Regions from separate parts of the Homo sapiens genome. Here region 1 is linked to region 2. Evidence: fine-mapped expression QTL. Tissue or cell type: nucleus accumbens. Region 2 holds a variant in brackets; the other region holds the start of a gene. All regions are shown on one strand. Distances are between the middles of the regions.

Region 1 (8,177 bases), 350 kb after region 2:
TGAGGTCGGGAGTTCGAGACCAGCCTGACCAACATGGAGAAACCCCATCTCTACTAAAAATACAAAATTAGCTGGGCTTCGTGGCTCATGCCTGTAATCCCAGCTATTCGGGAGGCTGAGGCAGGAGAATCACTTGAACCCGGAAGGCAGAGGTTGCAGTGAGCTGAGATCATGCCATTGCACTCCAACCTGGGCAACAAGAGCGAAACTCCGTCTCAAAAAAAAAAAGGAATCCTGTTAGCTCAGTCTAGCCAGAATCTCTTTACCCTTGATGTTTCCTCTTAGTAATTTTCTTTTTTTTTTTTTTGAGACAGAGTTTCACTCTGCTGCCCAGGCTGGAGCGCAGTGGCACAGTCTCAGCTCATTGCAACCTCTGCCTCCTGAGTTGAAGCAATTCTCCTGCCTCAGCCTCCTGTGTAGTGGGATTAGAGGCGTGCACCACCACATCTGGCTAATTTTTTGTACTTTTAGTAGAGGTGAGGTTTCACCATGTCAGTCAGGCTGGTCTTGAACTCCTGACCTCCAGTGATTGCCCACCTTGGCTTCCCAAAGTGCTAGGATTACAGGCGTGAGGCACTGCGCCTGGGCCATATTTTTTTTCTTTAACAGTGCCCAAGCCCCTGGTCTGGGGATTCTGATTCCACAGGTCTGGAATGGGGCTTGATCACCCATATTTTGAACATATGTTCAAAGTGATGGTAGTAGTGCCAGTGAATTCTGTCCAGAACAGTGTCAAATGCTCACCTGCACATTAGAATCATTTGGGGGCTTTTGAAAAACCCCAGTGCCAGCCAGGCATGGTGGCTCATGCCTGTAATCCCAGCACACTGGGAGACTGAGGTAGGTGGAATGCTTGAGCTTAGGAGTTCAAGACCAGCCTGGGCAACATGGTGAAATCCTGTCTCTACAAAATATACAAAAATTAGCTGGGCGTGGTGGCGCACACCTGTCATCCTAGCTACTTGGGAGGCTGCAGCACAAGAATTGCTTGAACCTGGGAGGTGGAGGTTGCAGTAAGCCGAGATCACACCACTGCACTCCAGCCTGGGTGACAGAGTGAGACTCTGTCTCAAAAAAAAAAAAAAAAAAAAGTAATTTACAGAAAAATAAGAAAGAAAAACCCCAGTGACTAGCTTCCATATTGGACTCATTAAAACCAGACTCTCTAGGTGGAGCCTGGATGTCAGTGTTTGAGAAGCTCCAGATGACTCTAATGCTTGGTCAGGGTTGAAACTCCTGCTGCCTCATTAGATCTCTGTCCCGAGACCTTTTGTTCCAGTCTCTCCTGGGGAAGGGTCCACCCTGACCTCTGGCCTTTCATTCTTTCCCCTATCCCAGCCCTCTGTCCAAGCCCACAGCTCCTTGAGCTTCCTCAGTGTCCATGTTCACCCTTACATCCATTAAAGCCCCCTCATCCTAGGCTGGGCACAGTGGCTCATGCCTGTAATCCCAGAACTTTGGAAGGCTGAGGCGGGTGGATCACTTGAGATTAGGAGTTCAAGACCAGCCTGGCCAACATGGTGAAACTCCATCTCTGCTAAAAATACAAAATTAGCCAGGCATGGTGGTGCGTGCCTGTAGTCCCAGCTACTTAGGAGGCTGAGGCAGGAGAATTGCTGGAACCCGGGAGGCAGAGGTTGCAGTGAGCCGAGATGGCACTACTGCACTCTAGCCTGGGCAACAGAGGAAGAATCTGTCACACACACACACACACACACACACACACACACACACACACAAGCCCCCTTATCCTTCCAGGCCCGTATCAAGCCCCAGCTGTCCAAGGAAACTTCCAGGACATTAAGTGGCCTCCGCCTTCTCTGGGAGTTCTCCCAGCCCTCTCCCCTGGGAGCACATACTTTAGCCTGTTTTATAGCATAAACTGGCTGCTTCACATCTCAACTGGAGCAAGGACACACCTGATGCCTCTGTTCCTCAAGCAGCCCAGCAAAGAGTCTATTCCATTCCACTCAACGTCTGTGCTGGGGGCTTGGCACTGGGGGTGACATGCACAGAGACAAAGAATAGCCCATGTTTTATGGTTTAGCTGCAGGGTGCAGTGAACAAGGGAGCCACCATACCCAGTGAAACCGCAGACGAACTTCCTCTAAGTGGGGAATGTCACAGAATCACAGATGTCAGCATTAGAAAGTGCTAAAGTTGAAGAGGGGAGCTGGGGCCGGGGGGGAGGAATAAAACAAAAAAAAGAAAGCGCTAAAGTTCTTATCTAGTCCTGCTCTGCCTGCACCGCCCTACACATACCCATACACGCATAGTGCAGAAATCTCTTCTATAGCATCCCTTACCATCCTCTTCTTGAAGGCTTCCAGTGATGGGAAACTCACCACCTTACCAAACAGCCTCTTCTACACCTCTTAAAGCCTTTACTTTTCCCCACTCTGCCATAGTGTGGTGAGTTATGGACCCGCCTACCTCCACTACTACACTGTAGGGTCCTTTAGGGCAGGAAGTGTATTTTGCCTCTGGATCTAGCTGGAACCTCATGCAGGTGCTCAAAGAATGCATTTGATTAACTGGACCTGCTGGGCTCTGATTATTAGACTGGGGTGGCACCTAAGGGATAGCCCAGGATTTCAAAAGGCTGGGACAGGCTGGAGCAGCCCCAGGAGGCAGAGAGCAGGGGCTAGGGGTCCCAGACTGCCATGGGGCTGGGGGAGGGGAGGACGCAAGTCCTGCTGGCTGTCCCATGGTCCTGACTTAGGCTGTCTTTGAGGACACACTGGGGGACCTCGGAGAGGAGGTCACCGTTACACACACCTTTAAGGAAAGACTTGACAGCCATCAGAGGGACAAAAATCCTGCCGGGGTCCAGTGGTACCTTTGCCTTCCTCAGACCCTGATTCCACTGACCCCCAATAGGTCTCTTCCCTTCACAGTCCCTGCTTGCCCCTAGGTGTGAAATGAAACAGCACCTCCACTTCTCCTGGTGGAGGTAGGTGCCCACCCTCGAAACCAAACTGAATCTCCCAGCCTGGGACATGGCATTCTCAGAATCTAGGTCCAGAGGCCTCATTTGGGGATTCCAAATGGTTTTTCCCCTGATACCAAATAGGTCTCCTACCCTTCCCCAGGGTCAACCACTTCCTCCCTCCCCACCTCCTACCTCAGACAGTCCACCTAGACCCTCAGCCAAGGTCTTCCAGAGTTTGCAAAATAATCAAATGTGCCACTTGCATTTGAATTCAAATGGCTAGGACTGCCCTGCCCCCTCCCCAAGCCACTCCCACCCAAATAGCATCACACCACAGTCCTGTCTTGGGGACAGGCAGCTTCTAATCTGATTTCACCTCCAGTCTGGCTGAGGGCCTTCAGGAGCAGTGTGGTGGCCTCCGTCAGGAGGTCTGGCACAGCTGGGACAAGCCCTGACCCAAGAGTTCCTCCATGTGCAGCATGGGCACAGCCCACCCATCCTCCCGGGCAGCTTCACAGCTGCCATCAGATCAGGTGCCTGGAGCCTGGCATAAGGCTGGCAGGACAGCAGGCTGGGGGAACTCCACCCTGGCACAATGTGGTATCCAGAAATGTGGGTCTCTGTTCCCAGGCCACCACAGCCAGCCCTCGCCTGCCCACCCAGGAGGGTACCAGCCAGCCGCGCTGGCAGCCACCCTGCCACCTTCACCTTTCAACACTCCTACTTTCCTTTCTTCCTCCTACCTCTGCTTCGTAGGTTCGTCTTCCTTCCAGCCTGCCCCACCCGGCTTCTCACTTCCCTCTTACTTCTCTGGCTGCCCCAACCACCAGCCCCACCCACCAGCCCCACCCCTGGGCTCCTTCCCCAGCCGGTGTGGAGGCGATGTCCCCCGACAGGGAGGGGCAGGCAGTGCTGGGAGGCCAGCAGGCCTGAAGCAGAAGAGCAGTCACTGGGGTGGGCAGTGGGTATGCCAGGCCGTCTCCTCAGAGGGGCACACAGGGAGGCTGGAGGTCCACACAGCCCCACCACAGTGGCCTCAGCCCGCTGCAGGTCACAGCCAAGGCAAATCAGGGAGGGCATCTCTGAGTCTGAGACCAGCAAGGAAAGCCATGTTCTCCATTCAGGGCCTGGGGCAGGCGCGGCACAGCCCCCACCGCTGCTGGGTTAGTCACATTTTCTGGGCAGGGTCACTGGCTTCACATTACTTTTTCCTCCTCCCTCAGTTTGTCTTTCTCCTTGCCCTGAATGCAAGTATTTGATTTTTTTTAAGATCAGTTTTTTGGTTTTTTTTGTTTTTTTTTTTTTCCTGAGACAGGGTTCACTGTCACGCAAGCTGGAGTGCCGTGGCATTATCACCGCTAACCGCAGCCTTGAACTCCTGGGCTCAAGCGATCCTCCTGCCTCAGCCTCCTGAGCAGCTGACACCACAGGCCTGCACCAACATGCCCGACTAATTTTTTTATTTTTTCTGGAGACAGAGTCTTGCTACTCAGGCTGGTCTAGAACTCCTGAACTGAAGCAATCCTCCCACTTTGGCCTCCCAAAGTGCTGGGATTACAGGCGTGGGCTACTGCACCTGGCTAAGCTCAGTTCTCAGGGAATGGCTGAGGCCATAAAACATTCTTCACCATCTTCCGCATGCCATGCTGATGCCTCTCAGGTCTCTACCCTTTGGTCTGCTTCTCATTCACCAGATGTTTATCATCATGACTTCTGGGCCCTGGGCCCTCTGAGAGACAGCCCATCCTGGGTTGACCCAGGGCAACTATCCTGCCTACATCACAGTCACTAGACCCTAGAGCTTGTCTCCTCCAACTCGCTGGCTTTCTGGAGGACACCGAGGTCCTGAGAGCACAAGAGACTGCCCACAAACACACAGGGAGTGGAAGCCCCTGCAAGGGAGGCTCCCATTCCCTTCTGAATCCCTGGGGGAAGGATGAGCGGACTCAGTATGAGGCTCCAGGAGAAAGTGAGCACCCAGTTATGCAGCCACACAAGCGTAGTTCCTCTGCCCAGAACCTAGCCGGCCTGTCCTGGAAAGGTATTGGTCAGCAGGCTGGCTTGAGACAAGGCTCCAGGTTCAGGGTCAAGGCCTGGGGACCCTGGAGCAAAATCTGGAACAAATCTTCCTAATTAGCAGACCTTCAAACAAAACCTCATTATTTGACTGCGTGGGAAAAGTCTGGAGAAAATACAGTACTGGATAGGCTGGGCATGGTGGCTGTCTCCGGTAATCCCAGCACTTTGGGAGACTGAGGCAGGCAGATTACCTGAGGTCAGGAGTTCAAGACCAGCCTGGCCAACATGGTGAAACCCTGTCTCTACTAAAAATACAAAAATTAGCCGGGCATGGTCATGGGTGCCTGTAATCCTAGCTACTGGAGCGACTGAGGCAGAAGAATCACTTGAACCCAGGAGGCGGAGGCTGCAGAGAGCCGAGATGGCGCCACTGCACTCCAGCCTGGGAGACAAAGCAAGACTCCATCTCAAAAAAAAAAAAAGCAATACTGGATGAATGTTTCTCATTGAAACGAAATTGATAAAATTTCACTAGAGCAAGACGGGAAGTTAAATCTTCTCCCCAAAGAACATGGCCTGTAGCTAGCATCCAAGTGTCTCCATGGCCAAACTGCCAGGCTTAAAAATAGGGTAATATGGGCCGGGCGCGGTGGCTCACGCCTGTAATCCCAGCACTTTGGGAGGCCAAGGCGGGTGGATCATGAGGTCAGGAGTTCGAGACCAGCCTGGCCAGCATGGTTAAACCGCCATCTCTACTAAAGACACAAAAAATTAGCCGGGGGTGGTGGCGCATGCCTGTAATCTCAGCTATTCAGGAGGCTGAGGCAGGAGAATCGCTTGAACCCGGGAGGCAGAGGTTGCAGTGAGCCGAGATTGCGCCATTGCACTCCAGCCTGGGTGACTGGGCAAGACTCAGTCTCAAAAAATAATAATAATAACAATAATAATAGGGTAGTTTGGTGGAGGGTGGGAGGAGGGAGAGATTCAGGAAAATAACTAATGGGTACTAGGCTTAATACCGGGGAGACAAAATAATCTGTACAACAAAGCCCCATGACACGAGTTTACCTATATAACAAACATGCACATGTACCCCTGAACTTAAAAGTTTAAAAAAGAAAAAAAAGGATAGTCTGGGTGAGAATCCCAGTAGGGCCTAGTCCCCACAAAACCACAGGCTGGGCGGTTAACCTGGTAGAGTGATAAGAGCTAGACAATTTGGCTCCTTACTAGCTGTGCAAGTGACTTAACCTCCTGGAGCCTCCCTGTGCCCCAATCTGTAACACGTGCATACAGTTAAATGTGAAGATGAAATGAGATCCTATGATTAATGAGCAAATAATACATGCTCGATAAACCCAGACTTCTTTCTCTTCCCTTTAGTTTGCAATGTGCCATCAGCACCTGAGGTAGAAATGTGCCTGGCCACTCCCCTAGCTCCCGGTTTCTCCACAGGAGGAAAGAAAGTTAAACCACAGAGCACTCTCCTATTTCCATCCCCAGCCCCAGCGCTGGAAAGCTTCATAGATTTTGGTCACAACAGCGCATACCTTGGGTGGCTCTTAAGTTCTGGACTCTGTGACCCACGGAGGGAACAAGGATCAATGGGAATCACTGTTCCTCACACTCAGCTGTCTAGGCTAAAGCCTCTCCTATCACCACAGGAAAAAAGGGGAGAGGTTTACACATTAACAGCGAAACAACTGGCTGGGCGCAGTGGCTCACGCCTGTAATCCCAACACTCTGGGAGGCCGTGGCGGGCGGATCACCTGAGGTCAGAAGTTCGAGACCAGCCTGACCAACGTGGCGAAACCCCATCTCTACTAATAATACAAAAATTAGCTGGGCGTGGTGGCGGGCGCCTATAATCTCAGCTACTCGGGAGGCTAAGGCAGGAGAATCGCTTGAACCCGGGAGGCGGAGGTTGCGGTGAGCCGAGATCTCGCCACTGCACTCCAGCCTGGGCAATAAAAACAAAACTCCGTCTCAAAAAACAAACAACAACAACAGCGAAACAAAAGGGCCGGTCGCTCAGCCTAGGACTCTCGGGAGCGGCTAGGAACTCAATGCACATGCTAATGAGTTATCTGGTAACGACGCTCTAGAACTAGTTTTTTTACCAGACGCACAGTGTTCCTACCCTTGTGGTCTCCCCTGAGCACTACTGCTTAGTTTGTCCCAAATGAAGTAAAATAAAGTATTTCTTTAGCACGGACCCACCCTCTCCCGCCTTTTCTTACAGGAAGCCAGGAGACGGCGCGCCCCTAAGAGAGGACCCCGGCTGTGGGAGAAGAGGAGGGAGCGGGGCGCCCCCGAACCGGCTAAGCCCGTTCGACCCCTACATGGGGAGCCCAGGTCCCCGGCGACCGGACCCCGAAGCGCACTACTTGCCTGCCAACGCCTTGCTCCGAGGCCCTGGGCGCTGTCTCAGCCGCCCCCCGCCCCCTGGAGGTGCGCGGCCAGGAGCCGCCCCCGGTGAGTCAGAGGGAGGGGCCCGGCCGGTCTGAGCTGGCGGGGAGCCCCTATGGGAGGCTGGGGCGCCCGAAAGGGTCCTAGAATTGGGCGTGGGAAGGAGGGTATAGGGGAAGCTAAGGACAAGCTTACTGTGCTGTAAACTTTGCGAGAGAATTGCAGTGTTCACTTCCATTCAATCGTTAGGCCCCCGGCCTCAATCACCCTGTGAACAGCTACTGTTCTGTGAGAGCCTACTATGTGCTTGGTGCGTCCTCACATCTACTATCATTATTCCTGCTGGAAACATGAAGTCTTTGGGAGGCTCAGAGAGGGTAACTAACTTGTCCAGAGTGTCACATTGCTAGTTCAGTAGCAGAACTAAGATTTTTTTTTTTTTTTTTGAGACAGGGTCTCACTCTGTCGCGGCACCTGGAGTGCGGTGCTGTGATCACAGCTCACTACAGCCTCAACCTCCCAGGCTCAAGCAATCCTCCAGCCTCAGCCTCCTGAGTAGCTGGGACTGCAGGCATATGCCACCACGCCCAGCTAAACTTTTTTTTTTTTTTGGAGAGACTGTGTCTCACTCTATTGCCCAGGTTGGTCTCAAACTCCTGGGCTCAAGTGATCCTCCTGCTTTGGCCTCCCAAAGTGCTGGCATTATAGGCATGAGCCACCGCACCCAACTGCTGAACCAGGATTCTAACCCAGGCTGATCTGACCTGCAACACCTGACCCTTCTCTTCTTTATTCAGAGGAAAACAGGCCAGCAAGC
Region 2 (8,177 bases):
TGGTGAGTGAGCTGCTCCCTTAAATCTACCAAATTAGACTGACAGCATTTGGAATCTGCCTCACACATAAGAGATCCATATTCATTTAATAGTGAAGCCAGCCCAGAAGCATCCTCTTCTGTAAGCTGGATGGAGTCCCAGCTCTCTCTCCTTGTATATAAGGAGACCACACCCTGTATATAAGGTTTTCTTGAGGTAGATGCAGCAATATTCCTGGGGTAAGATTCTATAATACTCCTGTATTGGCAAGTGGACTGGACCAACAGACACAGGCCTCAGCCACTGTCGCTAGGGACTGAAGGAGAGTTCATGGATTCTTACCCCCTAGTCATGAAAGCTATTCTGGCCAGCCTTGAATCCATTTAATTTTGCCCACGAGAACCTTTCATGACAATTAACAAGACACTAGTTTCCCCATAAAAGTCCATTTTTAAATATATAGTATGCTAATTAGCAGTGTCTGTTGAATTGCCCTATCGGATAGCAGCCACCATGTGTGCTGACCACTCACGATTCAGACTTACCTTGGAAAATATCACACTGACGATACAGTACTTTAGAATAAATTGCATATTGTATCAGGCTCCGAGACTAATTTGTACTGAACCCTTGATATAGATTACCTTTTATAACATCACCACCTGTCATGAAGCTTATCTGTTTTCTGATTTGAATAAACTTTGTGTTGTGCACCTCAGTTTCCATTGCATTCACTGAGATAGCTGAGTGTGACTTCAGTGTTGTGTCATCTTAAGATGTCAGTAATGTTCAACACAGACTTGGTCATCTGTGGCACTGGTGTTTCGGCATTTCTATAGTTTTTGTTTTGTTTTGTTTTTTGAGATGGAGTTTTGCTCTTGTTGCCCAGGCTGGAGTGCAGTGGCACTATCTCGGCTCACTGCAATCTCCGCCTTCTGGGTTCAAATGATTCTCCTGCCTCAGCCTCCCAAGTAGCTGGGATTACAGATGTGTGCCACCACGCCCAGCTACTTTTTTGTATTTTTAGTATTTTGTATTTTGTATTTGTATTTTTAGTAGAGACGGGGTTTCACCATGTTGGTCAGGCTGGTCTCAAACTCCTAACCTCAGGTGATCCACCTGCCTCGGCCTCCCAAAATGCTGGGATTACAAGCGTGAGCCACCACACCTGGCCTCATTTCTATAGTTTTAAATCCCCTGTGAAATACCATTACTCCTATTGTCCCTGTCTGCGTCCTCTCCTGTTTCTGTGTGTGTGTGTGTGTGTGTGTGTGTGTGTGTGTGTGTGTGTGTTTTATTAATGCTTCCAGTGACATCTGCAGTTTCAGTTCCATTTGCCTACGGAATTTTCAGGACCACCCTGGTTACCACTGTTGCTGGTGTCTGAGCCTGAGGGGTGAACATGTGGCCTCTCTCCTCAGTCCAGAAAAGGACTTTGGAATACTGATTCTACTTACAGCTTCACAGGGCAAGACTAGAAAGAAGGACTTGAGAAGGAGCCCCCTGAACTTCAGCATGAACATAAGCCCCACCCACTCAGGACCGGAAGGGACAAGACTTGTTCCTTATCCATTTTTTTTTTCCCTCTTCAGAGTTCCTGTTGGCTTTTGGTGGTTGTTTTTCCCCATTTTGAACACTCAACTGCCTCTAGCCAATGGCAGGGTTTTTTTTGTTTTGTGTGTTTGTTTGGTGTTTGTTTGTTTTGTTTTTGAGACGGAGTCTCACTCTGTCGCCCATGCTGGAGTGCAGTGGCGCAATCTCGGCTCACTGCAACCTCCACCTCCCGGATTCAAGCGATTCTTCTGCCTCAGCTTCCTGAGTAGCTGGGACTACAGGCCCGCGCCACCACATCCAGCAAATTTTTTGTTTTTTAGGAGAGACGGGGTTTCACTATGTTGGCCAGGCTGGTCTCATACTCCTCACCTCAGGTGATCCGCCCACCTCAGCCTCCCTAAGTGCTGGGATTACAGGAATGAACGACCGTGCCCGGCCAAGCCAATGGCAGGTTTAAAAGCAAGTAGTGAAAATTACCTTTTAGTATCTACCTGAACAAATGCCTTTCACTCCAGCCTAGGGCTCTAGGGTTGTCCCCCAAGTCACTGTGTTCTGAGGAGGATGGTGGATTGTATTTTTTTTTTTTTTTTAAGACAGGGTCTCACTCTGTCTCCCAGGCTGGAGTGCAGTGGTGCAATCTCGGCTCACTGCAGCCTAGATCTCCTGAACTCAAGCTATCCTCCCACCTCTGCCTCCCGAGTAGCTGGGAGCTACAGGCACATGCCACCATACCCAGCTAATTTTTGTGTTTTTTGTAGAGATGGGGTTTCACCATGTTGCCCAGCCTGGTCTCAAATTCCTGGGCTCAAGCGATTTGCCCACCTTGGCCTCCCAAAGTGCTGGGATTACAGGCATGAGCCACCATGCCTGGCCGGATCTTTTTAAGAACACTTTTGGCATATTTCGATAAAACTTTTAATCCTTTCATAGTATTTTCCAAGTGTTCACCATTCTATGGTTATAAAGCCCCGAACAAGTCCACCTAAGAAAACCAAAACCCACCATGTCCACTCGCAGGCGCTTGTCCAGTGGTCCTGGGCAACACATTCTTTTCACACAGCTGTCTTTCAAACTGCCTTCAGCTCTGGTAGAGTCTGGCCACCAAGGATTGGGGTGGGTTGGTTGATTACTCCACGAATCCTAAAATGTAAAGGTTGCAACAAATAGCACTTTTCACATCTTATACTGTTGTAAGGCACACATTTTAGACATTGTTACATTTCAAGTAGACAGCATTTGATGAAGTGTTTGTAAGATAGCTTTTAGATGCTTATAAATTCTGTAGCCAGCCATAACAGATGTTGGCTGGGAGAAAGAATGGAATTAAGTTTGTAAAAAGAAGTGGTTGGAAAAATTACAATGAATCATGAGAATGGATGTGAATCTTCTGTATTAGAAATTAGGGTTCTCTCTCTTGGGATTCTCTCTCTTACCTCAAAAGTACCCAGATCATGCTTGGACTAGGAGGCAAGTCATGGGTAATAATTGGTAGGTCAATTCTGGGGAGGTAAAATTTGCGGAATTTCCTGGATTACTGACATTGCCTGCGCTGTGAAAGAAAAAGGGAAAATGGTGGTCTTGCTTGATCAGATGTTAGAACTTGGAATTCACGGTGGGGATAAGGAGATGCACATTTTTGTGTCAAGGGCAGTGGATGGGACTCAAAATCAAGCTGGGTTGGAGGTGAAGTTAGGGAAAACCTGGAGAATGGAACTCTGGAATTAAAGCTTAGAATTGGAAAGGTCTAATTGCTCTCTGGGTGCAGGAGTTCCCATGGAAACCTTCCTGACAAGTAAATATCCACCCAGAACAGGGAGAAGATAAAGTGCTGTGGTTACAAGCACAGATGTGAGTTTCAATCTTAGCCCTACCGCTTACTAGCTGTGTGATCTTGGCCAAGTTAATTAACTTTAATTAAACAGTATGCCTATTGTCTCATTCTTAAATGTAGCTAATCATAGTATTAAATAATGTGCTAATACAGTGCCTGGTGTGAAGTAACCATAAAAAAATGGCAGGTGCCTCAGAAGGCAACCAACATAACAGGGACCCAAAGGTGACCAATAGTGGAATTTGGGCCAGGAGCAGTGGCTCATAGCTGTAATCCCAGCACTTTGGGAGGCCAAGGCGGGCAGATCACTTGAAGACAGGAGTTCAAGACCAACCTGGCCAACATGGTGAAACCCTATCTCTACTAAAAGTACAAAAAATTAGCCAGGGGCATTGGTGGGTGACTGTAACCCCCACTACTCAGGAGGCTGAGGCATGAGAATCACTTGAGGAAGGCAGAGGTTGCAGTGAGCCAAGATCGCGCCACTGCACTCCGGCCTGGGCAACACAGTGAGACTCTGTCAAAAAATAAATAAATAAATAAGGAAAGAAAGAGTGGGATTTGCTTGGGAGCAAAGACAGAGCCAGATAACTTCTACGCAAACACAGCACATTGATTTAATTAGCCCCATCCTGCTTCAAATACTTCTAAGTCATTCTGGCAAAACTCCATGAGGGTCAGTGACCTGGTAAAAATCGTGGAAGCTCAAGTTTCTTTATCTGAGGAGTTCAAGAGCTGGGGAAGGACGGGAATCACCCTAGGTCAGGAGACCATAGGTATCAAAGAATAAACATCAACTGAGGCTTTACTATGGATCCCACCACCTCTTCATTTACTCAGTCAGTTTCTTGGGCATCTACTAAGTGCCTGGCACTGTTCTAGGCACTTGGGGTTCTCCAGTGAATAAAGCAAAGAGGTCCCCAGCTCACTAAATAGCACAGCTTCCCAG[T/C]TGCTCAGTCCAAAACCTGTTGGAATCATTTTCTACTCTTTTTCTTGAACCTCACATCCATTTCGTCAGCAGATCCCGCTGTCTCTATTTCCACACTTTTCCAGAAACTGCCCCCTTCCCACCATCTTCACTGCTGCCGCTGGCCCAGGCCTCCATCATATCCCCACAGGGTCATCGCTATAGCTTCCAAGTGGCATGCCTGCCCCCGCACTTCCATGTCCCAGCACAGCACCTGGGTAATCTTGTCAGAACCTACACCTCCAATCCCTCTGCCGCTCCTCCCTCTCAGAGGAAAGGCGGAGTCCTCACCACAGCCCCTGGCTCCCACAGGCTGTGGCTCTTATTCCTTTTTGGGGTTCATCCCCTGCTACTCTATTCCCTCCCCCAAGCCTCACTGACCACCTTGCTGTCCCTCGGGCATGCCACAGCTCTGGGACTTTTGCCTTTGCAGTCCCCTTTTCTTGGAAGATCCATATTTCCTTGCCTCCTTCTCTTTGTCGGTGAGGCCTTCTCTGACTACCCAAATGAAAACAGGGATCCCAGGCCCACCCGGTACACCCCAGCCCCACCTCCAGGGTTCCAGCTATTCTCCTGCCTCAGCCTCCCAAGTAGCTGGAATTACAGGCACCCACCACCACACCCAACTAATTTTTGTATTTTTAGTAGAGACAGGGTTTCACCATGTTGGCCAGGCTGGTCTCGAACTCCTGACCTCAGGTGATCCACCCACCTCAGCTTCTCAAAGTGCTGGGATTACAGGCGTAAGACACTGCACCTGGACTGTTTCTCCATAACTCTTATCACCATCTGACATCCTCCCTACCCCATATACACATTATGTGCACACACACACACACACACACACCCCTACATACACACACACATAGATGCCAGCTTCCTGAGGGCAGGGCTGTCCATTAGTCACCCTTGTATCTCCATGTCTATAAGGCATGGCACACGGTAAGTGCTCCATAAATATTTATGGGATAAAAGAATGAATGGTGTGGGCCAGACTCTGTTAAGAGTGTTTTTTATTATTTCAAAAGTGCATACCAATATAAAATACTCAGTCCCTGTGGAAAACAATTTGGCAGTTCCTCAAAACATTAAACATAGAATTACCATGTGACCCAGCAATTCCACTCCCAGGTATATCCAAGAGAATTGAAAACATATGTTCACACAAAACCTCCTACATTCATGCTCAGAACAGCATCATTCATAATAACTGAAAAGAGGAAACAACCCAAATGTCCATTCACTGATGAAAGGTTAAACAAACATGATCTACACAATGGACTATTATGCGGCCATAAAAAAGAATGATGTACTGACGCATGCTGCAACTTGGATGAACTTTGCAAACATGGTAAGTGAAAAAAGTCAGTCGCAAAACGCCACAGAGTATATGATTCCATTTAAATGAAATTCCCAGAACAGGCAAATCCATGGACACAGAAAGTGGATTAGTGGTTGCCAGGGGTTGGGCAAGGAGAGAGTGGGGAGTGGCAGCTCGTGTGCACTGGGTTTCTTTCTGGAGTGTTGAAGAGGTTCTCGAATTAGATAATGGCGACGGTTGCATAACTCTGTGAAGATATGAAAAGCCACTAATTTGTACACTTCGAAATGGTTAAAATGGTGAATTTTATGTAAAGTTTATCTCAAAAAAAAAAAAAAAGTCAAACATACCTGCGGTAGGTATTCTTAACATCCCCATTTTACTGATGATAAAAGTGCGTGTCAGGGACCAGCTCTGCCAGGTGCCCAGCAACCCTGCACATCTCCACCGGGCTCGACGGCAACCTGACCTGCGTCTTGGTGGAACACCCTGCAACTCCTCATGGAGCAAGGGGCGTTAAGTGGCCCTGTGCATCGCTGCCGTGAGTGGTCTCACCTGCCTCCCCACCCTTTTGGAACTGCTGCAAGGCCATTTCTCATCGATCTTCCTAGTTTCTGTTGAGCGCAGCGCTTTCCTCCTCTCTCCCCACTCCCACAAGTTACGTCTGCAGGTGCCTGCTAAGTCTGTAGAGTGCTCGGTTGCAGTTGAGAGCTGGCTGCTGCACAGCAGGGCAACCCACTGTCCATGCCATCTGGTGTCCCAACCTTCCAGCCTTGTGTCCTCCTGTGGGACGAGGGACACAAGGAGCGACATGTCATGCTGATTTAGCTTTTGCTGTCTGCGTATGTAACAACCTGTCCAAATCCATGTGGCTCAATGTCTCCCTACAGACAAATCTATGGAAGTGTGGCTGGCCAGCCCCACAGCTGCAGGGGTAATCTCTACGGCCCCGTTAGCCCCTGCTGCTTTGGGAATGCTTGATGCTGAGATGAAATAAATGTTCCTGGGGCCCACCACTGCTGGAGGCAGGATCCCATCCCAGCTGGTCTGACTCAATTCAGACACAGTAAAAGCCATCTGGCAGGTTATCTGATATGACAGTAAATTAAAATGAAGACAGTTCTAGAAAAGACGAGATTTGTTCTAAAGTTTTTCTTTCTGATCTCTTCAAAATTTCTGCCTTATCTTTACTACAACAATTCAGAGAAGTCAAGGAACTCCAAAGCCTCTCTTAGGGGCATTTAGACAGTCATCTTTGGGGAAATATGGGGCTAGGACACGTAAAGTCACTCGATGACTTTTAGAAATATTAGCCTGTGACCACATATACATTTCTTCAGGATTAGAAATTAAACTGGCAGTCTTTACACTATAGTTAAACATTGTCTCCAAAATTGCCCCTGCAGTTTCCAAAAGTTGAAAGCCCTCACCCATTAGGGACATTTGAGTCATGGCACCTTACCTAGGCCTTCTTCAACCACAACCCTGATCTTCCAGCTGCCTCTTCTGTCCTCAAGACAGAAGCTCGCCTAATCCTTGGAACAAGAGGCAGCAGATCCTGAGAAGTTTCTGCTTGTGTTTGTCGGCAAGGAGATGGCTTCAGCAGTGGTAGGGGCGTAGGCAGGGGCAGGGCTGCCCCCTTAGTCTGTGAGGCTGGTGATCGGCCACAGTGAATTGGCTCCATATCCACGAAGAGGCAAGGAGGCTCTGCTCTAGTGACCCAGGTCCAAACCTGGGAAGCTCCAGATCTGGGACAAGCTCCAGATCAGGCCCAGGCTAGCCGTGTGACGTTGGAGCAGCTGCTTAACTCTGAGCCTGCCCCTCCTGCTGCACAAGTCCCTGCTGGCTGTGTGGATGAGCAGAAATAATGTCCATGAAGGCATCACAAGGTCTCAAATGGAAGGCTCCAACAACTGGTTCAGTGAAAAAAAGGTTTGGAGAAAATACACATTTCCATGACCCCAACTGTGGAGAAATCTTTCTGTCCTTCTAGCTTTAAGAGTAGCAGAGCACTGTCTGGTGAGGAACTTTTCCTCCCGAACAGTCTCAAAATCGAAGCTCTGAGCACACTGAGCCAGGCCTTCCCTCATCTCTTCCTCTTCTGCACATTTGCTCAACTGTGATCTGAGTCAAGCCAGCAAGATCCAAGCTAGTCTAGCAAAGCATTTTCCAAGCAGCCTTGGAAAGGGGTTGGCCTCGTGAGGACACTGATTCCTAATATTTGCAGTTGGCTTTGCAGAGCTCTCATTACAGCGAAGGTGTGAGGGTGTCTGTTGCCACCCGCTTTTGAGAGAGAGGCACTGAGCACTACAACAGCACAGCTAATGTTTATTGGACCCTTCGTTCGATCCAGGAATTTAGATGGACTATTTTATTTAATTATTTCCATTAACCTGCTACCATTATCCCATTTTGGAAAGAACACAACGGAGGCCCAGGAGGGGTAAGGATTCTGTCCTGCAGTCCGAGGCCAGCAGGGCTGTGTTTCCCAGCACCGTGAGGGTCTTTACAGTTTGGGACCAAAC

The links. PIP is the estimated chance that this variant, and not a neighbour inherited with it, causes the effect.
Region 1: it holds the start of CAPG, and the variant in region 2 is fine-mapped to the expression of CAPG in nucleus accumbens (GTEx, PIP 0.97).

The regions. Positions count from the first base shown.
Region 1 is chr2:85,406,642-85,414,818 of GRCh38, forward strand. CAPG (capping actin protein, gelsolin like) reads right to left here and starts at 3,725. Exons shown (of 10, transcript NM_001747.4): 1 at 3,676-3,725. LOC105374841 (a long non-coding RNA gene) reads left to right here and starts at 7,070. Exons shown (of 3, transcript XR_940316.3): 1 at 7,070-7,426; 2 at 8,158-8,177. RefSeq lists silencers at 3,743-3,792, 3,903-3,952, 7,406-7,485 and enhancers at 6,829-7,330, 7,226-7,275.
Region 2 is chr2:85,058,781-85,066,957 of GRCh38, forward strand. It overlaps KCMF1 (potassium channel modulatory factor 1), which reads left to right. Exons shown (of 7, transcript NM_020122.5): 7 at 1-692. LINC01964 (long intergenic non-protein coding RNA 1964) reads right to left here. Exons shown (of 2, transcript NR_146453.1): 1 at 6,003-8,177; 2 at 5,330-5,899. Among named protein-coding and RNA genes, the nearest start is that of LINC01964, 4.5 kb to the right of the region's middle. The variant T/C (reference allele first, on the strand shown) is at 4,314.